Linked DNA regions of Homo sapiens. The protein of the gene in region 1 interacts with the protein of each later gene in a biochemical or structural test. Each region holds a gene or a part of one and is shown on either strand. Other genes may lie near its edges.

Region 1 (11,807 bases):
TCTCCCTACTACAACCTATGTCAATTATACTGCAAGGCATGTATCACTATCCCAAAAGATATCATTTATTTAAATCCTTTTGGTCTGTCTCTGTACACTTAAGTGCCATGAAAGCAGCACAATTATTTGTCTCATTCACCATTGTATCACCAGTGTCTAGAAGAGGGCCTAGCTCAATACAGGTGTTCAATAAATGTTTGTTAGATAAACAGTGAATAGGACCACTGGTACACTGTGTTCTGTTGAAATCTGGTGCTACAAGGTGTACAGAAAGTGCTGGTCCATTGGTGACTCATATTCAGTGGCTCTTCAGGGGAGTAGCTCTTCAAGTCCACTTCCTCCATTCTTAGCTAAGCCAAGGGTGCTTCTTGCTTGGGCTCCTATTATTACAATTTCTAGTGCCCTGTTCTTCATAAGCATCCATCTCCTAGGGAGCTAGCTGGCTCCAGGACTGAGTTTCAGAAGTTGCTCTGGACTCTACTATTCCATGGACCCCCAAATCAGTGTGCTAATGGAGGATACCCTGGGTGAATCCAAGGCAGTTTCCTGTCACTTTCCTTGCAGAAAGAAAGGAGGGAGTTGAAGGGAAAAGGAGAGAAGGAAAGAAAGAAGGAAAATACAATAAAAATACAAATTACATTTCTTTGTGGTTACGTTTTGGAACAGTGATTCATTAATTAATGCATTTAACAAATGTGTATTGCTTGCCAACTATGCGTCAGGCACTCTTCTATGCACATTATTGCTATAATTGCCATGATCTCTATCATCTTCATCATACGTCTATATTAGACTGTGAATTTCTCAAAGGCAGAGATGGCCAGGCATGGTGGCTCACACCTGTAATTCCAGCATTTTAGGAGGCCAAGACGAGAGGATTACTTGAGCCCAGGAGTTCAAGACCAGCCTGACAACATAGGGGGATGCCATCTCTACAAAAAATAAAAAATTAGGTGGGCATGGTGGTGTGCGCCTGTGGTCCCAGCTATTAGGGAAGCATAAGTAGGAAGGCTTGCTTGAGACCAGGAGGTTGAAGTTGCAGTGACTTACGATTGCGCCACTGTACTCCAGCCTGGACAACACAGCAAGACCCTGTCTCAAAAAAAAAAAGCAAGCAGAGACAATCTTTTCATTGTAACAAGTGCATAGTAAATGTCTACTGCCTGAATGAATGAAACAGAGGAGAGAGTTAATGAAAGACATTAAAGAAGATTAGGCCCAGTTACATTTATATTCAGACAAAAACATAGAACGATTGTTCTTTAAATTGTACAATGTTATTATATTAAATTTTAAATGTCTTCCATGTTTTACATTTGTCTATTTAACATACTTTTTTTTTTTTTTTTTACATATTTGTAATTTTTCTTTCTTTTTTTTTTTTTTGAGATGAAGTCTTGCTCCATTGCCCAGGCTGGAGTGCAGTGGCATGATGTCGGCTCATTGCAATCTCCTCCTCCCAGGTTCAAGCAATTCTCTTGCCTCAGCCTCCTGAGTAGCTGGGATTACACGCAGGCACCACCACGCCCAGCTAATTTTTGTATTTTTAGTAGAGATGGGGTTACACCATGTTGGTCAGGCTGGTCTCAAACTCCTGACCCTGTGATCCGCCCACCTCGGTCTCCCAAAGTGCTGGGATTACAGACGTGAGCCACCACACCTGGCCCATATTTGTAATTTTACAAATAAAATGTATGACTCAACATATTTGTAATTTGACACCTTCTGTCTTTCTACTTAACATTAATGACAAACATTTTTTAGTGTTTGTTTTGATTTTGGTTTTTGTTTGTTTGTTTGTTTTGAGACAGTGTCTCGCTCTCTTGCCCAGGCTGGAGTGCAATGGCACGATCTCATCTCACTGCAACCTCCACCTCCCGGGTTCAAGCAATTCTCCTGCCTCAGCCTCCCAAGTAGCTGGGATTACAGGCGCCTGCCACCACGCCTGGCTAATCTTTTGTATTTGTAGTAGAGATGGGGTTTTGCCATGTTAGCCAGGCTGGTCTCAAACTCCTGACCTCAGGTGATCCACCTGCCCTGACCTCCCAAAGTGCTGGAATCACAGGCGTGAGCCACTGTGCCCAGCCCTGAGTGTTTCTACATTATCATTATCTTCATGGCTTTCTGTAATTTAGTAATTTCTCTTATTTTTGAAGCATTGTTGGGTTCCCTGTGGTCACTAGCAATGCAGACCCTGGAACAACTGGTCAGGTGTTTGTGCTTCTTCCACAAATGACAAAATGAAGGAGCACCCGGGAAAGTACATCTCATTCTGGAGGAAGAGATGGCACCACATGAGGAGCAGGCAGGGAGTCAATCCCAGGTGCACTTAGGAGAGAAGAAAGGCACATCCACCTGGTAAGCCGCTCTGAAATGAGTAGCGTGCAGGGTGATGTTGAGCTCTATTCTGCAGTTCGATCAACATGCTTCTACCTCTCGGCCCTCACATAGCAGCCTGCCTGGCTGCCATCTGCCAAGCTTTTGCTTTCCTTTCTGTTTTGCATAAGGCTTTTGCTTTTAATATGCTGCTACTGAGTACAGAAAAACAAGAGCGTACCAGACTTCAGGGATCTGCCTGTTTCTTTTCTGCCTTTTAATAGAGCTTAGCTCTTTTGCCACTTGTTATTGTCAAGTACAACATGAGTTCAGAGAAAGAATACTGCACCTGACCGGGGATGGATGCCACGCCTTGAAGAAATTGGCAGGAAACAGAAGAGGTTTATAGGATCTTCTCTTCTGCCACTCCCATCTTGGAAACAAGTGGAAGTACATTTGCAAAATTATATTGAAAAAAATGAGAAAATGCATTTTTCTTTATAGTCAACCCTTCTGACATGGACCTAGTTTCAAATGAAGTTATGAGGAAATGGCCCTTATGACTAAATGTTGATTCATGTGCTGTGAGCTGTGAACCCAGGATGAGAAATGGGAGGAAATCAAACTAAGGAATGGAAAGGGGGAAGTGCTCTGGGTGCCTTGCCTAAGAGACTGAACCCTCAAATCTTGGAAATAAACCATATTTTGTAAACCAGATAATTTAGACTTAGGTTATTTTGTGTGTCTCTTATTTGGTATCATTTATCAAGTTATGTTTTAAAAGTCTATAGCTTTGGGCTATAACATATATGCTTAGGCCAGAGTTTAATGGGGATCAACAGCATCCCTGGAAGCCTATATCTCTTCAGCAGGTATCGAGAGAGATCCTAAGAGAAAGATGATTCTGGTAGCGGTGACACCCAAAAATCAAAGTCCAAATTGAGTAGGGGCTCCTTTCCAACAGGCAATCTCTTGCTACAGTAAATCTTGGATGTTATTTAAATTTTATTTTATTTTTATTTCACAAAGTACACTAAGGCCAGGTGTGGTGGCTCATGCCTGTAATCCCAGCACTTTGGGAGACCGAGGTGGGTGGATCACCTGAGGTCAGGAGTTCAAGACCAGCCTAGCCAACATGGTGAAATCCCGTCTCTACTGAAAATACAAAACTTAGCCAGGTGTGGTGGCGCATGCCTGTAGTTCCAGTTACTCTGGAGGCTGACGCAGGAGAATCACTTGAACCTGGGAGGCGGAGGTTGCAGTGAGTCAAGATTGCACCACTGCACTCCAGCCTGGGTGACAGAGCAAGACTCTGTCTCAAAAAAAAAAAAAAAAAAAAGTACTCTATCCTTTAAGAAGTACACTCAAGCCCACAAGAATTCTTTTGAATATATTTAAAGTAACATGAGAAAATTAAATAAAAAACTTAAATAATGATATTTTCTACAAACTCTAGGATCAAGCACCAATTAAAGAGGATGAGTAGGCTGGGCGCGGTGGCTTATGCCTGTAACCCCAGCACTTTGGGAGGCCCACACAGGCGGATCACTTGAGGTCAGGAGTTCGAGACCAGCCTGGCCAACGTGGTGAAACCCCGTGTCTACTAAAAATACACAAATTAGTCAGGCGTGGTGGTGGGCATGTGTAGTCCCAGCTGCTTGAGAGGCTGAGGCATGAGAATCGCTTGAACCTGGGAGGTGGAGGTTGCAGTGAGCTGAGATCGCACCACTGCACTCCAGTCTGGGCAACCAAGCGAGACTCTGTCTCAAAAAAAAAAAAAAAAAAGAGAATGTGTAAAAGATAATGGAATTATTACATATTCAAGGTCTCATCTACCTTGACATTTCTATGATAGATGTCATCATTCATTCATTCACTGAACATTTACTGACTCTTAAGTGACAGGTATTATAGGCAGTGACTTGTACACTGTTGTTATCTATGTTGGTTTTTAATAATTTCAAAATGAAATACATTTTGATAAGCAAAGTCTAAGAGAGTGTGGCACAAACACTTTAACGCATATAAGCTCGGTGGCTCATGCCTGTAACCCCACCCAGCACTACCCACTCAGGAGCTTATCTATGCTCTGCCAGAATGTATGTTCATCCCTGGAAACCTCACTTGAGAGTGCAGAAGGAGGCTGATACCATCCACGCTCTTCCTATACTACACAGTCTTGTCTGAAATTTAGTCACCTTAATCACTGTTTACTATAAAGTTCCACAACTTAAACATCAGGCAATTACAGGATATGGTGTTTCGGCCCTAATGAACCTTGCAAATACCTGAAATACTCAGAATACTTATTTTCATTCCAGATCTACTCCTAAATTTAAGGGGAGCAGAAGAATGCGAATGAAGGCCAGTAACTATTGTGAATACTATACTAAATTGTCTGTAGGTAATAGCCACACATTGGAACACTAACAAAAGGAAAATGTATGCTTGATACTACTGAGAAACAATACTTTGTCATGCAGGAATCTATAGCATTCAAGCTGAGATGAAGGATTTGACAAGTTAATTTGTCTTCTCTCTTACCTAAGCATTTCTGCTGCTCAAATTCTGACTCCAAAGCAGTCTCTGAAATGGGCAGCCATGCTATGTACAAATTTTCACTGCTTTTGGAGTTCACCGTTTGTTTTGAGGACAGAAGACAAAAGATAGGAAGAAGAGTTTTCCTGGGGCCTGAATAGTGTTCTTCACTGGGAGAGGGAATTTATGGTTATGAGCCAGTGTTCAGTATCAGATCACAAGCGGCAGGGGCACCTATTTTTTTTTAAATTAATGTGTGTGTGTGATATGTAAGTTCCTTTAAAGCATGGAGTCCAGGATAGAAGTCTCTCTTGCCCAGGTCTAAGGGTGCGGGGGGAAGGGGGGGGGCGCGGCGGTGGGAGGGAGTACTTTAGTGATACTAGGAATTTAATGCCAAATGTATTTGCTGTGTGACCTAGATGGCTGAATTTTTTAAAAAGTTCTTCAGCATCGAGAAAAATCCAGTTAGACCGATAGCTTAGAGAGCTGTAGCTTATTTCTAAATTTGACTTTCCCTAAAACTAAGTGTAAATGTCAGTGATATGAGGACTTTTTAAAGAAACAAAATAAAGAAACAAGATACACAAAAATAGAGCAACTATGGCCAATCTTGTTTCATCCCTTTTCATCTATGACCTTACTCATACCCCTATCCATAATAAATGACTTTCAGCAAATCCTAGATGTTCTGCATCCTATATCTTTCTAACAGATATTCTTAAAAAGTATGACCACAATACCATTATCCAATTATTCCTTGTTCAACAAGCACTTACAATTTCATCCATGTGAAAGGCACCTCATGATTTTTACTTGAGGATGAAGATAATTTCTCATGAATTCTCATTGTTTTAAGTCACCTGAAGAGGTGTGATATGCTACAATAAATCTATTTGTAGGGCTTGGCTTCAAGAACTGAAGATTCTGGACCTAGCTGATCTGGTGACAGTGAACTTGAGACCTCTAATAGCGTTTAACTATTTTTTTTTAACTTTTGGAAAGCAAGGTGTAGGAAGGGGATTTAGTTTTTCCATTAGGTCGTGGCATGTTAAGACTTGTTTCTTTTTCCAAAATGTTCAAGTTGCTGAAGAGAACTATGGACTATGGGTCAGGAAGTCCGTCGGTTTCGGGTCACATTCCGCTCCCGCAGGCCTGCGGGCCGCCCCAGCTGGTTTGTTCCCGGCGTGTTAGAGGTCAGAGGCCGAGGCCGCACTCAGTGCCTGGGTCTCGCGCAGCTCCAGGGCTCTCAGGCGACACTGGGCGTTTCCTTTCCGGCTTCGGAAAGTTTTGTTTTGGTTCAAGGAAAGGCGCCCTGTTGACCAAAGGCTTCTCAGTCTCCTCCGGGTGGCCAGCGGCCAAGTTTCCTCCAGCCCAGCGAGTCCAGACTATAGTCCGTTCGAGATCCTCGAAGGCCGGGGAAGCGAGTCTTGTGAGGAGAGAAAGCGAGTGGGCAGCCAGCCTGCCGACTCCACTGCCGCTGGCTGGCCCTTCTCTTCCCTCTGTCCCTGGGCCAGTGCCCGTCGCACCACAAACAGTGCGAGCAGTCTCCCCGGTGACTCCTCAAGGACCCAGTTCTCCACCATTCCTAAGAGAACACTCAACCCAGCCGCGCCCGGGATGCAGAGAGATCTACCAACACCCGAGAATGGGGACAGGGCGCATGCGCACACCGTGGCCGTGGCGTCTAAGTGCTCGCCCAGCTGCGGCAGCCGCTAGGTGGCGCATGCGCCCTGGAAGGTGCGGGCCGGTCTCTGGGAAGAAGGCGGCGGCGGCGAAAGGCGGGGGTGCTGTGGGGGCCGGGCCGTGTTTACACAGCGGCGGGCGGGCGCGGACGCGGAACCCGGCGCGGCGGCGGCACGATGGTCATGGCGTATTTCGTCGAGAATTTTTGGGTAAGCTTAGGATGTTGGAAGTCGTGTGTTTCGAAGTCCAAGGCTTTTGGCGCCTGAGCTTGGCCTGCGTGCGCTTCGGGCGGCGGCGGCGGCCCCTCCGGCAGGGCGAGCGTCCTCCTGCCGCGTCCCGCCTGGGTGAGGTCCGGCGGGCGACCGGTCGCCAGCCTATAGGGACTCCCGGGCTCGCAGCCCTATGGGGACGGGGGCTGTCACCGCGGCCCGGGGGCCCGCAGCGGGGCCGCCGGCCACCGGGGCTGGGACAAAGCGCCGGATGGGGCGGGAGACGGGACCCAGCCCCACCGGAGGCTCCCGGTGCCGCGCTCCGCGCGGGGCGTGCGCGGCAGCTCGGACGCGAAGGACGGGCCCGCGGCACAGCCGCCTCCCGCTGCGCGCTGGCTGGGAGCGCCGGGCGGTGGGGTTTTGCCTCCTGCCCTCACCGCGGGCCCCCCATCTGAGCGATCCCTTTTACCTCTGACGGTTTCCACACCAAATCCAGTGCGGGGTTGGGCTGGACTAGCACTTCCTCTCAGCCTCGCAGCTCGGCTCGTGGGTTTGCGCCCAGGACTTTGCCTCTGGGCCTGTTCACAAAGCGTTTAAAAGTTGGATTTAATGTAACTGGACTCCTTGGGCTTAAATGCATGGAGACCTCCCCCTACTCTGTGCTCCTTCCCCTTCCTCATTCTTTCCACCCCTTGTCTTAGCTCAGTATTAGATTCTTCTTTGAGAATTTCTCCGGCTCCCGGTGGAGTATTTTTCTGCAGTTATTGTTTTTTTTTTTGTAATGGGAAGTACAGTTCAGCCATGTACAGGAAAGGAACGTGTTTACTCAGGTATCTTTCGTGAATCCCATTTTATGCCCTGACAGTTGCAAGTACTGCAGGTCCATTTTCGTTGAGATTTAGACATATTTAAAGGGGTAATCTTTTAGCTAGTAAGGAATGTATGTTAAATTCTTAATTCTAAGTGCCTCAAGCATGGTCTTGGTTAGTAATCAGATCAGTTCATAGTTATTTATTTGTCTTGAATGTACCTTGTTTTCCACAAAGAACGTATATACTAGACCTTAGGTGTTTTGTTTTTTAAACAGCTTTATTGAGTTCACATTTCCGTACCAATACACTCATTTAAAGTGTAGTACAATTCAGAGGTTTTTTCATATGTTCATAGAGTTGTGTAAACATCACCATATCAGTTTTACAACAATTTCGTTATCCCAGAAAGAATCCCTAGACCCATTAGCAGTCACTCCCCATTTTCCCCCTGCCCCAGGCCTAGGCAACTAATGTATTTTCTGCCTCTCTGCATTTGTCTAGTCTGGACATATCCTATAAATGGGGCCATGGTGACCAGTTTCTTTCACTTAGCATAATGTTCTCAAAGTTTATCCATGATGTAGCATGTATCACTACTAATTCCTTTTTATGGTCAAATAATATTCCATTCCACATTTTATTAATATTTATCCAATCAGTGATGGACATCTGGTTGTTCCCACTTTTGGGTTATGAATAATGCTGCATGAACATTTTTGTACAAGTTTTTGTGTGAACATATGTTTTCATTTCTTTTGGGAATGGGATTCCTGGGTCAAATCGTAGCTCTATGTTTAACATTTTGAGGAACTGCCATACTATTCTGAAGTGGTTGTAGCATTTTACAATCCCACCAGCAATATCTGAGGGTTCCTCTCCACATGCTCACGAACACTTATTTGTCCTTTTTATTATAATATAGTGAGTGAACGTGAAGTAGTATTAATATTTTATTGTGGTTCGATTTGCGTTTCTTTGATGCTTAACATCACAGTTAATGTGCTTATTGCCTATTTTTATATTTTCTTTGGAGAAATGTCTATTTAGATTAATTGCCCATTTAAAAATTGGGTTGTCTTTTTTTATAATTGAGTTGTAAGAGTTTTTTTTTTTTTAATATTCTGGATACACACCTTATCTGATACATAATGTGCAAACATTTTCTCCCATTCTGTGGCCTGCCTTTTCATTTTCTTGATGCTGCTCTTTGAAGTAACTCATAAGTTTTTATTTCTCGTGAAGTCTTGGTGAAGTCCATCTTATCTATTTTTTTCTATTACTTGTGCTTTTATTGCATCTAACCCAAAAATTATTTGCCTAACCCAAAAATTACGCCTTTTTTCTTGTTTTCTTGTAAGGGTTTTATAGTTTTACTTCTTCTGTTTAGTTCTATGATCCATTTGAAGTTAATTTTTGTGTATGGTGCAAGGGAAAGGTATAACTTCATTCTTTTGCAATTGTGTATCCAGTTGTCCCAGTACCATTTGTTGAAAAGGTTCATCTTTCCCCGTTGAATTGTGGTACCATTGTCAAATATCAATCGACCAGAAATGTATGGATTCATTTCTGTATTTTCAATTCTATTCCATTGTCTTCCCTTACGACAGCCAGTAACACACAGTTTGGATTGCTGTTGTTTGGATTACAAATTTGTTTTGTATAGCAAATTTGGAATCAGGAAGTATGAGTCCTCTAGCTTTTTCCTTCTTTTTCAGGATTATTTTGACTGCCCTGGGTTCCTTGCATTTCCAGATGAATTTTAGGATTAGCCTGTCAATTTTAGGCATTAGGTTTTACAATGGCAATTTATAAAATGTTTTAAAGAGCATTTAAAAATTGATGCTCTTGTAAATGTTATGCATATTTTTGATGCATGAATGTTTTTTAAGTTGCTAACTTAATTCCAAATTGCATCTTCACATTAAAAGTTATGTTTCGTTTTCTGTTAATTGAGCTTTGAGCATAGCTTTGTTTGATGTTTTTGGCTAATATGAATAATACTTCTCTGAATATCTTTCTACACATTTTTATGTGCTTCTTGGGTATTCTTGTTACAAGAGGGATGGGAATAAACTTCAATATTTGAATTCTGGAGAGACCTCCAAATCTAATTTATGTTTTAGTTTTTGCCTTCACTTTCACTATTGAAAACAAATAGTTAATAGACTGCATTTTATTTTATTTCCTGGCTTGGAATTGGGGCTGTGAGGAGGCTCAGTGAGCTAGGAAGGTCTAGGAATTAACTAAATAATTAACTTCCGAGAATTTATAGTTGTCATTTTAGGCTGGGCATGGTGGTTCACTCCTGTAATCCCAGCACTTTGGGAGGCTGAGGCAGGGGAATGGATTGAGCCCAAGAATTGGAGACCAGCCTGGGCAACACAGTAGACCTTGTCTCTACAAAAAATTTTAAAAAATTAGCCAAGTGTGGTGGCATATGCCTGTAGTCCCAGCTACTTGGAAGGCTAAGGTAGGAGGATTGCTTGAGCCCAGGAGTTCAAGGTTGCAGTAGGTTATGATTGGTCACTGTACTCCAGCCTGGGCAACAGAGTGAGACCCTGTCTCAAAAACAGAAAACTAAAAATTCACATATTTCAGGATCATTTATAAAATAATCCCTTAAAATAGATATTAATTTAACTCTTCCCTCTAGCATTTAAAGTGGAACTATTAAAAGGAAATAAAATTGTCAAAATTCAAAACATCGTGCTCTATATGATAAATATATATGTTTTTCATCAATTAAAAGATAAAAACTTGTCAAAGTGAGGTAGTGAGAACCTTTGATGTTTTAGGTCTGTCTTGTCTTGTCTTCTCTTCTCTCTCTTCTCTTCTTTCTTTTTTTTTTTTTTTTCTGAATTGCAGTCTCACCGTGTTGCCTGGGCTGGCACGCAGTGGCACGAGCATGGCTCGCTGCAGCTTCAACCACCCAAGCTCAAATGATCCTCCCACCTCAGCCTTCCAAGTAGGTGCGACCACAGGTACAGGCCACCATGACCAGCTGGTTTTTAAATTATTTGTGGAGATGAGATCTCGCTATGTTGCCCAGGCTGGTCTCGAACTCCTGGGCTCAAGCCATGTTTCCGCCTCAGCTTCCCAAAGTGCTGGGATTAAAAGGCTGAGCCACTGTGCCCAGCCAAAGTTTTAGGTTTCTAATCAAACAACCTATTAATTGTTTTCTCCCCTACATGTATAAAGACAAACCTTTTTTGTTGTGACATTTCATTAGAAGAAAGTTTGAATCGTTGAAACTCTCTTCAAGCTCTTTTGAAAGCAGCACATTCTTCCTTTTTCTTTAAAGTATAGGTTTTCTCAATTGAAACTATATGCTAAATTGAAAATTCCTTTACTTAATACTGTACTTTGAAGGAAAAATTATTCAAAACCTTTTACAGAACAGGTGTTTTGTTATTGATAAGTCAGTTTTTGCCACGAAGTATAGCACCATTGATAATCAAGCTGAAATTGGACAGCAAAATTAAAATTGGACGCAAAAATAATTTTACTAGTAGAAATTCACACCATTGCTTTTAATATGTAAAAACAATTGTTTTTTATCTTTATTTTTACATATTAAACATTATGTAACTTTAAAAAGATATTATAAAAGATTATGTAACTTTAAAAAGATATTGATCAGTATTACAGTGAGGAAGTGTCTAAGCCGCTGCTTTCTCAAAGGAATAATTGAGTACAAGTTTATAATAGTCTTGAGATTATAACAACATTGCTATGTAATAATTAAAATGGCATTATATTTTTATGTAAACCCAGATTATTCAGCAAAAAAACCTTAATGCATTTCATAGGTAATTATTAATGGGGGACAAATAAGTATGTAAAACATACCTGAGTTGAATAGCTTATAATCTTCATTTTACAGAGTAATCCCAATCTATATACGATATGAAGCATTCACCCAAAGACACTAAGTAGTATTCTTTAGTATATATCACATTGTAATGAGCTGAGATTTTTAGTTAGGTGACTTTTTCCAGAGGTTATCTATAGTCAGCACATAAAAAATGAACAAACAACAATTAGGTATTTTTATCCTGAAGTTTTTCCTTATTTCTTTTACTGATTAACTGTACAGAAGTCTCATTTCACTTGATTTTATTGGTTTTGTTACATTTTGATTTAAAATTAAATTGAAACATTGGTTATATACCCAAAATTTGATTTATCATTACTTGGATAAGCTAAGAGAATTAAAATGTATTTTAAAATTCTGGAATTGCTATTAATA
Region 2 (11,190 bases), on another chromosome or scaffold:
AAATCACCTAAGATCATTTCATGAGAAAGCACTAAGCACTCCCAGTTTGGGAGGCGTGGATCTTTCTAAAACTTCCTGTCCAATTTTTTTTTTTTTGAGATGGAGTATTGCTCTGTCACCCAGGGTGGAGTGCAGTGGCATGATCTCAGCTCACTGTAACCTCCGCCTCCCGAGTTCAAGTGATTCTCCTGCCTCAGCCTCCTGAGTAGCTGGGACTACAGGCACGTGCTACCACACCCGGCTAATTTTTGTATTTTTTTTTTAGTGGAGACGGGGTTTCACCATTTTGGCGAGGCTCGTGTCAAACTCCTGAACTCGAGTGATCCACCCGCCTTGGCCTCCCAAAGTGCTGGGATTACAGGCGTTAGCCACTGCGCCTGGCCAGGTCACTGACTTCTTAGCCTCTTCCTGTTCCTTTCCCTATACATTTGTTGAATGAAGGCGTGGCCTGGTTTTCTTCGTTTGGAAATGTCAGCACTTCTTTACACTTGCTCTCGAGTGAAAATCTACACCATGGGTTACTGTTGGCCCAGGTGTGAGGCATGGCCCTCCCAGGCCCTTACTGTCTAGCTCAGGAGATCACTTGGGTTCACAGATAACTCTGGGGGAACCAAGGGTATAATTCCAAAATTTTTGGTTGGGGGCAAAAGGGAAGCACCCTGCAGCAGGTGGCTGTGATCTGGTTGGATTTAGGTGACAGAGCACACTTGGCAAGCAGATGGCCAGGTGAAGGTGAGCAAAGTGGATAACCCAGCGGGCTAGCCTAGGGGAGGAGGGGTGTGTTTTCTCCACCCCCACTCCTGTCTGCACTTTTCCCATCAGCATCTTTTTCAGTCTGTTCTGTACTCCATGACATCATCTCAGAATCTCCTTCCTTATATACTCTTTTCTGACCCTGAATATCAACGTAAATTCGAAAGGTCTGCACCTCTGCCTCTTTAGGAGTGATTTTTTTTTCCCAACAGCATCTCAGTGATTTGTGTGTCTCCCTGTCCCCCTGCTCAGCTCTCTTCTGCTTTCCAAAAAGCCTTCCGTGGAAATGCATCCAGATCTCTTTCCTCCTTGTACTCCCCGAGGTTACCGGTGGCCCCTCCGTCCTTAACCCCGGTGCCCTGTGGCTGCAGCCGATCCTCCTCGAACTCCGCAACACTGGAGCCCGTCGGTCTTCACTCTTCATCCTCTCTCCTTTCAGTCTCTCCTTCTTGTCCCCTAATTTCAGCCTCCCTACCTGCATCTTATCTCTCTGTGCGCTCCCTCCCCTGGAGCTTCTGTGCAGAGGACTTCAAACCTGCCTTCTAGAGTCCAGAAGGTGTCTCTCTCCTGCACCTCTGCCAGCCTGCTGGACTCTGGAATGGGCCATTTCCTTGCCATGCCCCAAAGTGGTCTGGGCCATTCTACTTCCTACTTGCCCACTCCCTCCCACTTAATCCCACGCCACTGTGGAAGTCATCTTTTTGATTTTTGAGACAGGGTCTCGCTCTGTCCCCCAGGCTGGAGTGCAGTGGTAGGATCATAGCTCACTGCAACCTCAAACTCCTGGGCTCAAGCAATTCTCCCACCTTGGCCTCTCAAGTAGCTGGGACTACAGGAGCGCAGCACCAATCATACCCAGCTAATTAAACAATTTTTTTTTTGAAGAGATGAAGTCTTGCTATGCTGCCTAGGCAGGTCTTAAACCCCTAGCCTCAAGCAATCCTTCTATCTCAGCCTCCTAAAGTATTGGAATTACGGTGTCAGCCACTGCATCTGGCTAGGATTCATCTTCTAAAACATATTCCCCTGTTCCAAAAACCTTTCACAGCTCCCATTCCCCTTCCTCCAAAAGAACTCAGTTTATGGCTGGGCGCTGTGGCTCATGCCTATAATCCCAGCACTTTAGGAGGCTGAGGTGGATGGATTGCTTGAGGCCAGGAGCTCGAGACCAGCCTGGCCAACATAGCAAAACCCTGTCTGTACTAAAAATACAAAAGTTAGCCAGGCATAGTGGCAAACGCCTATAATCCCAGCAACTTGGGAGGCTGAGGCACAAGAATCGCTTGAAACCAGGCGGCGGAGGTTGCAGTGAGCTGAGATCGCGCCACTGCACCCCAGCCTGGGCAACAGGGTGAGACTCAGTCTCAAAAAAAGTCAGCTTTGATGACCTTAGTAAGCCCTGAATCGACTCCACCTAACCTTGCTGGGTCCCTTTCCTGCACTTCTGGCTCTTGGCAACACTTTCTAGCCTCAGCATCCTTAGCTGTGTTGCTCCGGTTGCTAGAACATCACTGTGAGCTCCTGCCGTATGCTGCCTGCCCTGAAGGACGGTCTTTGAGGCCTCCCCTGTGTTGTCCTCCCTTAGCCCCACCCGAATGAGAGTTCTCTCCCTTGTACCTTCCGTGGGTCCCTTTTGTGACCGCTGTACCTAGGAAGCGCGTGGTAACTGGGCTCAGTGATGAGGAGAGACTGCCCTGGGCCCAAAGAGCTACACCTTCCTCCTTTCCCCCTTGTTATGTGTTCTTCATCCAGGAGCTTTTGCTGTATTTCAGTAGGTGCCTCCATTCTAGGAGGCTTTTATTCCCCTTTTACAAGTGAGGAAACCAAGACCCACAGAAATAGAGTAACTTGCTGAAGTCTCATAGTTGGTGGGCGCAGAGCTGAGGTCACACCTGCGTCCTCCTGCCGCAGAGCCCTGCTGTTCCAGATGGCCTGCTGGGCACCTCTCCCAGAGCAGCACCCGGCCAGTGTGTCTGGAATGAATGCTGAGTGGCTCGGACACTTACTTGTCCTCTTGTCCCTTGTTTCTTTTCTTCCTCTGAAATAAGTGCTAGTCTATCTTAGTAGAATGCTAATGGCAATGCAGTCTAAATTGATGAGAACGAAGTTTTAGAGTAAAATCCACTCCTGAAAGATCCAGAATTCCCTGACTGTCACTTATTGACCTGCACTGGCCTGTTTTTTTTTTGTTTTTGTTGTTGTTGTTGTTTTTTCGACTAAATAGATTCTCCCTGGGCAAGACCCCTCCACCTCCATTCTGAACTTTAAAACAACTTTCCAGGCCGGGTGCAGTGGCTGACGCCTGTAATCCTAGCACTTTGGGAGGCTGAGGCAGGTGGATCACCTGAGGTCAGGAGTTTGAGACCAGCCTGGCCAACATGGTGAAACCTCATCTCTACTAAAAATACAAAACATTAGCCTGGCGTCCTGGCGGACGCCTGTAATCCCGGCCACTCGGGACCCTGAGGCAGGAGAATCACTTGAACCCAGGAGGCGGAGGTTGCAGTGAGCCAAGATCACTCCACTGCACACTCCAGCCTGGGCAACAAAGTGACACTACGTCTCAAAAAAAAAAAAAAGAAAAGAAAAGCAGGCACCATCAGGTGCAGTGGTGCCTGCTTTTCAATGTTTAGGTCCTTAGATGTTTGTTTGGATTCCCAGATATTCCTTCACTGCCCTCAGTCCTGCAAATACTTTCTGTACCTTAGTTTTCTCATCTGCAGAATGGTACTGTGGACTCGCTTGACCTGCTTTGTCACAGTAGAGTGTCAGGACCCTGCCGTGTGACGCATGTGCTCTCAGTGCTTTCCTTTTTTTTTTTTTTTTGAGACAGAGTTTCACTCTTGTCACCCAGGATGGAGTGCAATGGCGCTGTCTTGGCTCACTGCAACCTCTGCCTCCTGGATTCAAGCGATTCTCCTGTCTCAGCCTCCTGAGTAGCTGGGATTACAGGCGCCCACTACCACACCCAGCTAATTTTTGTATTTTTAGTAGAGATGGAGTTTCACTATGTTGCCTAGGCTGGTCTCGAACTCCTGACCTCAAGTGATCTGTCTGCCTCAGCCTCCCAAAGTGCTGGGATTACAGGCAGGAGGCACCGCGCCTGGCCCTCATGCCTGCCTTTTGTAGATCACACTGTTCGTTCAGTGAGTATTTATTTGGCATCTTCTTTTTGCTGGACACTTTCTGGGCAGTGGATGGAACAGTGAATCTGAAGGCAGTGCCGCCTCACGGGGCTGACATCGTTGGGAGGGGCCCAGATATAAAGAAATGAGCCCAATGTGTAGTGCATTCGGTGGGGATTGATGCTGTGAGATGAGTAGAGCAGGGCAGGTTCCGATCTGATGATGGAGGTCAGGAAAGGTCTCACCACCAGGCTGGAAGGACTGAGTAAAGAAAACATCATAGATTGCCTGGTTCATCCTCCCGGTCACTCTGGCCAGTATTATCTTCAGTGTATAGGGGCAAGAGGGGCAGATCACTGGAGGCCAGGAAGGGCAGATCACTGGAGGTCGAGAGTTCAAGACCAGCCTGGCCAACATGCTGAAACCCTGTCTCTACTAAAATACAAAAATTAGCCAGGCGTGGTGGCACATGCCTGTAGTCCCAGCTCCTCAGGAGGCTGAGGCAGGAGAATTGCTTGGACCTGAGAGGTGGAGGTTGCAGTGAGCCGAGATTGCACCACTGTACTCCAGCCTGGGTGACAGAGCAAGACTCTGTCTCAAAAAAAAAAAAAAAAAAAATAGATAAAGTGAGGCCAGAGATTGTTACGTCCCTTGCCCAAGTTTGTACCCAGTGAGCTCAGGCAGACATGGCTTTTCTGACACAGGTTCAGGCCTCTTCATTGCACCATAGTTTCTTGTCTTGGAAAGTTATTTTTTTGTTTGTTTGTTTTTAAGTTTATGACATCTCCTAACCTCATTTGTTTTTATACCTAGTTATTAGATATCATGTAGTCTGAGTTTTTATTTTATTACTTTAATCTCATCTCATTAAAAGGTAGAGAGGGACATGGAAAGGCCTGCTTATTGTCTTCCTTTTTCCTTTAGAGACAGGCTCTTGCTCTATTGCCTACGCTGGAGTACAGTGGTGCAATCAAAGCTCATTGCAGCCTCGACTCTTGGCCTCAAGTGAGCCTCCCACCTCAGCCTCTCAAGGAACTGAGACTACAGGCATGCAACACCACACCTGGCTAATTTTTAATTTTTTTGTAGAGACAGGATCTTGCTATGTTGCCCAGGCTGGTTTCGAACTCCTGACCTCAAGTGATCCTCCTGCCTCTGCCTCCAAAGCGCTGAGATTACAGGTGTGAGCCACCACTCCCAGCCAGTTGTCTTTAGGAGAATCCAAAGGTTTCCCTGCCAGAGTGGTAATCAGTGCTCCTGGCCCATGCAGAATTGAGTTGTCCAGGCCCGGCCCACAGCAGAGGCTCAGGTCACGGGTGGTCCAAGCTGCAGGAGGGGCAGATGACTGGCTTCCATTTGGGTGTTGGACATGGTTGTATGGAGGAGAGGGCGTGTTTGGTGTAGGCCAAGCTTGTCCAACCCATGGCTGCATGTGGCCCAGGATGGCTTTGAATGCAGCCCAACACAAATTTGTAAACTTTCCTAAAACATTATGAGGTTTTCTTGTGAATTTTTTTTTTTTTTTTGAGACTAAGTCTCGCTCTGTTGCCCAGGCTGGAGTGCAGTGGTGCAATTTCGGCTCACTGCAAGCTCCGCCTCCTGGGTTCATGCCATTCTACTGCCTCAGCCTCCTGCGTAGCTGGGACTACAGGCACCCGCCACCACACCTGGCTAATTTTTTGTATTTTTAGTAGAGACGGGGTTTCACTGGTTAGGCAGGATGGTCTCGATCTGACCTTGTGATCTGCCCGCCTTGGCCTCCCAAAGTGCTGGGATTACAGGCGTGAGCCACCATGCCCACCCGTGAATTTTTTAAAGCTCATCAGCTATCATTAGTGTTAGTGTTAGTGTTAGTGTTAGTGTTAGTGTTAGTGTATTTTATGTGTGGCCCAAGACAATTCTAGTGTGGCCCAGGGAAGCCAAAAGATTGGACACCCCTGGTCTAGGCCATGGGGAATAGCCTTTCACACGGAGGCAAAGAGGACTGAGCCAGAGCTGAGAGGCTGCAGGTCTAGGTCAAAGGGCCAAAACATGCGGCTGGGACTTTGGGGTTCATGTCCTTCCTTTAATTTAGGCAGCTCAGGGATGAGAGGAGGAAGGTCTTTTGGTAAATAAGACGTGAGAGTTTGTGTCTGGGCTACAAATCGGCCGAACTGACAGGATGTCTGCTTGCCGAGAGAGTGGCCAGTGGCTGGTGGGGGCTGAGGAGCTGAGACCTGCCCACTGTCCTTCGCGCTGGACTGGGTTTTACCGCTGGTCAGAGTGGTGGCCCTGAAGTTTGCTCCTGCATGGAGTGCAGACCATTAGCTCTTAAAGCTTCTTTGGGCTTTTCCCTTCATAGGAGTCCCAGCTCTTGATACTACAAGCTTTGGGGTGAAAGTAAAGGTCACAGATGACCACAGACATTTGTCTCGGATTTCCATCTGCACTGCCTGTGGTGTGGAATGTAGACCTGATAACAGAATCTGTTTACTGACTGCCTGCAGGTCAGGCTGACATAAAGTCACTTCTCCTCCTCTTGGGCACACCAGCCAGGCTGGATCAGGCGCTGCTACCGGCAGCTGACAGCACACCTGCTCCCCGTGTTTCCCAGGCCTGCAGTCCTCATTCCCTCTGCTCTGTGGCCCCCTGGCCCCTCTTTCTGTCATCTGCGCAGGCGATCCTTCATCTTGCCTCAAGGCGTTTGCATCTGCTATTCCCTCTCTCTGGAATGCTCTTTCCAAACCCTTCATCCTCTGGTGAATCCCTACACCTTTTCATATCAGCTGGGGCATCACTTCCTCAGGGAAGCCTTTCCTGACAAACTGGCCCAGCATCTCTGTTACCACTGGTGGAGATGGACACCTTTTCCATTTAGCCGTTTATAATTTTCTCTTTGCGGGGTTGATTGATGGTCTGTCTTCCCCAACCACCTAGACTAGGTCCACAAGGGCAGAGACTGTGCCTGTTTTATTCATCCTTGTTTGCCAGGCTGCAGCTGGCACTCAGGTGCTCAACAATCATCTGTTGAGGGAAGAGTAGCATGGGCCACATTATGAGAGGCAGTAGGGAGCTATGGCAGGTTCTTGAGGAGTGACACCTTTAGATGATCTGGCTGCTTACACAGGGAGTGCTTGGAGCTGGGTTCTAGCTCCGAGACAGTCTCTGTGATATGGGCATGAAGTGATCAAGAGGAACCTGGCCTGAGGTTGTTTCAGGAAGAGTAGAAAGGGCTGGGGGTGAAAGGAATATGTGGGGTAGCTGTTTGGACAGGTGAGGGTCTAGGTGGGAGAGGAAGCAGGGGGAAGAAGCAGGCATAGTGTCTGCAACCGTCAGGTTGAGGCCACCTTCAGGGAGCCAGGACAGCAGCAGTGGGAGTGCCTGGTGGGCAGAGCCTGGTGGGCTGTGGCTGTGTCAGTTGAGTCAAAACCCATCACTTTGCAGGAAACCCTCCAAGCCACGTGAGACCCCACATTTAGGTACAGTCAAAAAGAAGACCAGCTCTGGGGCTGGGGCACCATGAGATTCTGTCTGCTGAGCTACTGTGTGCTGTCTTGGGACCAAGATAAATAAAACCGAGCCCCACCCTCCAGGTCAGCTCAACTGCAGCTGGGCACCCAGGCACACAGAAAATTAGGACATAGTGTGACACACTCGTGGAAGTCAGGTGGCACCCACAGCGGTGGGATGAATCACCTCCACTGGGCTGGGAATAAAGGACAGGAGGAAGAGGGCGCCTGTGCCTCCTTTTGTCTTTTCCCTCCTCTGTTCCAACAGGCCTGGAGGAAGCAGCTGGGTGCAGCCTCTCTGACTGGCTGTACACTGCGTGGACCAGTGTCCTGCCCCCACCCTTTGCACAGGCCCTGTCTCCCACCACCATCTTCACAGCTTCCTGGCCCCCTCTCTGCCTTCTCAGAGTCCCACTTCCCTGATTCTTTGTTTTACTTTATTTTTTCTTGAGGTGGAGTCCCGCTTTGTCACCCAGGCTGGAGTGTAATGGCATGATCTTGGCTCACTGCAGCTTCCGCCATCTGGGCTCAAGCAATTCTGCCTCAGCCTCCCAAGTAGCTGGGATTACAGGTGCACACCACCAAGCCTGGCTAATTTTTTTGTATTTTTGTATTTTTAGTAGAGACAGGGTTTCACCATGTTGGCCAGGCTGGTCTCGAACTCCTGGCCTCTAGTGATCCACCCACCTTGGCCCCCCAAAGTGCTGGGATTACAGGTGTGAGCCACCATGCCCTCCCCCCCACTTCCCTGATTCTGGTAACCTGGTCTCCCAGAACAGGTGGCAACGGGACCCCAGCCCTGGTGGTACCCTGACTGCCCTCACCAGTGAGTGGGCCCAGGCAGGCAGCTCTGGGCCCTGGGGAGAGATTTGGGGCACAGGTCTGATGCAGGAGTGAGGGAATGTTGTGGGACCAACAATGGTGCCATTGTCCCTGTGCTTGTTTCTAGATGAGGAAACTGAGAGGGAGAGAGGTAAAACAACTGGTCAGACCCCCATGGAGAACAGGCGTCTGAATCAGACCATGGGCTCCAAAGCCACCATTTTGTCCTATGATTGCCACACCATGGGCTCCGGGAGGGTCGAGGAGCTCTGTCTTTCCTGCTCCCTGCTGGGTTCCCAGCCCCTGAAATCTGGGCTCCTGGCACATAGTAGGCTGGTGATATCTGTTGATTGGAGGCTGGGTACTTGGAACAGCAGCCAGGAGCGCAGTCTGTCTCTCCAGCTGTCTTTGAGGGTAGTTGACAGAAGGGAACGTTTTGTCTCTTGGGTGAAGAAACAGGCACAGGGCCCAGAGCCGCCTGCTCGAGCCCACTGGCCGGTGACAGCAGTCAGGGCACCACCAGGGCTGGGGCCCTGCTACCTCCTCACCTCCGCTCATCAGAGGGTGAGGAAAGGGCTTTCCTCTTGTGTAAGTGACATCAACAAGTGTGCCTCTGTCATTACGCCAATCTGTAGAAAACTGGCTTTTCTTTCTTTCTTTCTTTCTTTTTTTTGAGACAGAGTCTCACTCTGTGACCCAGGCTGGAGTGCAGTGGCGCGATCTCAGCTCACCGCAACCTTTGCCTCTTGGGTTCAAGTGATTTTCCAGCCTCAGCCCTCCGAGTAGCTGGGACCACACGTGTATGCCACCACACCCTGCCAATTTTTGTATTTTTTGTAGAGATGGGGTTTCTCCATGTTGCCTAGGCCAGTTTCGAACTCCTGAGCTCAAAGCGATCCACCTGCCTCGGCCTCCGAAAGTGCTGGGATTGCATGTGTCAGCCACTATGCCCAGCTGGCTTTTCTTTCTTTCTTTTTTTTTTTTTTTTTAAGAGACGGAGTCTTGCTCTGTCGCCCAGGCTGGAGTGCAGTGGCGCAATCTCGGCTCACTGCAAGCTCCGTCTCCCGGGTTCATGCCATTCTCCTGCCTCAGCCTCCTGAGTAGCTGGGACTACAGGCGCCTGCCACCACGCCCGGCTAATTTTTGTATTTTTAGTAGAGACGGGGTTTCACCGTGTTAGCCAGGATGGTCTCGATCTCCTGACCTCATGATCCGCCCGCCTCGGCCTCCCAAAGTGCTGGGATTACAGGCGTGAGCCACCGCGCCTGGCCCCAGCTGGCTTTTCTTAATCTGAAGAGGACGTGCTTTTCAATTTTATATTTTCCAGTGGAAGAGAAAACTATCTCATTTCACACTCTCCAAAGGGGAAAGATGAAACACGAAAAAACTTGATGATGAGGCCCTCACACTGAGCGTGTTTAACCAGGACTGTACGGTTATGGGGATGGACTGTCCCCCTCAATTCCCCCCACACCCTACAAATGGCACTGTTTGTGGTTGGGGGGTCCCAGACACGATTGGCCTAGGCGCATGTTCTTGCAAACGTTCTTCCCTTTGAGTTTTTTCTTTGCTGAGAACTAGAACGCTCTGTGCCCGCGGCACCCCCGTGCTGGCTTTGGAAACTTTCTCTGTGGGTCGAGGCTTCTGGAGTGGAGGAGCAGGCTCCACAATTGCTGATGGGCTGGGCAAGGTTGTCCATCACCAGGGTGCAAATTGTTGCTGTTATTTTGCTTGCTCACACCAGGCCATGGAGTTGGCATTTTCTTTTAGGCCAGCCTCTGAGTTGGCATTTATAGTCAGTTGACTTTATTGATTTAATTTGTTGTTGTTGACTCTTAGCCACTAGAAAATGTCCTTTAATTCACATTTAATGCACATTTAAAATGTCCTTTAATTCACACTAAGTGGGTTTTTACAGGTGTGTACTTATCTGCTGTGTGTAAAATTGTATTTTTTTTAAGAAAATGACAGCTGAGACTAAGAGAATTGGTGAAACACTGTTCTTTTTTTATTTTTAGAGACAGGCTCTGTCGCCCAGGTTGGAGTGCAGTGGTGCCATCACGGCTCACTGCAGCCTCAGACTCCTGGGTTCATCCTCCTGTCTCAGCCTCCTTAGTAGCTGGGACTGCAGGTGCTCCTCAGCACACCACCACGCCCAGCTAATTTTCTGATTTTTAATTTTTGTAGGGCTAGGGTCTCACTGTTTTGCCCAGGCTGGTCTTGAATTCCTGACCTTAAGGGATCCTCCTGCCTTAATCTCCAAAGTGTTGGGATTACAGGCCTGAGCCACCATTCCCAAACTGAAATATTGTTCTATCCTAGATGTTGGGAGCTGCTTAGCTGTTGAGTTGAGAGAGCAAATGGCTACCATATGTACCATAGTGTAGCCAACATTTGTTGAAATACTTTATTGCTTGGCAAAGATCAATTGGCAGGGCAGGCTATAAGGACTGTGATTTTACACCTGCAACTCACGTGCTGATTCACAGCCTTGCCTGACCTCCCTCCCCGCCCACCATTCTTTGTAAATACGGCCTGCTCCCCTGTCTCAGGAATAATAATACAAGAGTAACCATAATAGGGGATGTAATAATGGCTTCCCATTGCAGAGTGTATTTCACTTGCATATTCTCATTTGGGACTTACCAGCATCCTCAGGCCAGGTGCTGTCTATTCTCATTTTACAGATGGGGACACTGAGGCCCAGGGTGGCTTGGTGGCTTGTCCTCACTGCTACTGAGCCACAGAGCTATGTCTGCCCGCTCCCCACTACCAACTGCACCTTCCTGCACTCAGCCCACCACCTGCCTCCCTCAACACTTTAATCTCACCCATGCCCTCAACAGACATTTACTGAAGGCCTGCTTCTAGGAGGGCACAGCGTGATCCCTCCACCCTCCAGGCATTAAGAATGTAGTGAGAGGGGCCGGTCATTACAGCAGCTTTTCCATCAAATCAACTTCAGGAAGTGTCCCTTGTCAAAGTTTGGGGCTATGGGAGTG

What was found.
Region 2: the proteins of FCHO2 (region 1) and EPS15L1 form a complex in vitro, tested with the Homo sapiens proteins (one study listed by BioGRID).

What each region holds. Positions count from the first base shown.
Region 1 is NC_000005.10:72,949,384-72,961,190, forward strand, and holds the start of FCHO2 (F-BAR domain only protein 2), read left to right. Parts: upstream 1-6,657; 5' UTR 6,658-6,713; coding exon 6,714-6,746; intron 6,747-11,807. UniProt on the Homo sapiens protein: Functions in an early step of clathrin-mediated endocytosis. Has both a membrane binding/bending activity and the ability to recruit proteins essential to the formation of functional clathrin-coated pits.
Region 2 is NC_000019.10:16,459,293-16,470,482, reverse strand, and holds part of EPS15L1 (epidermal growth factor receptor substrate 15-like 1), read left to right. Parts: intron 1-11,190.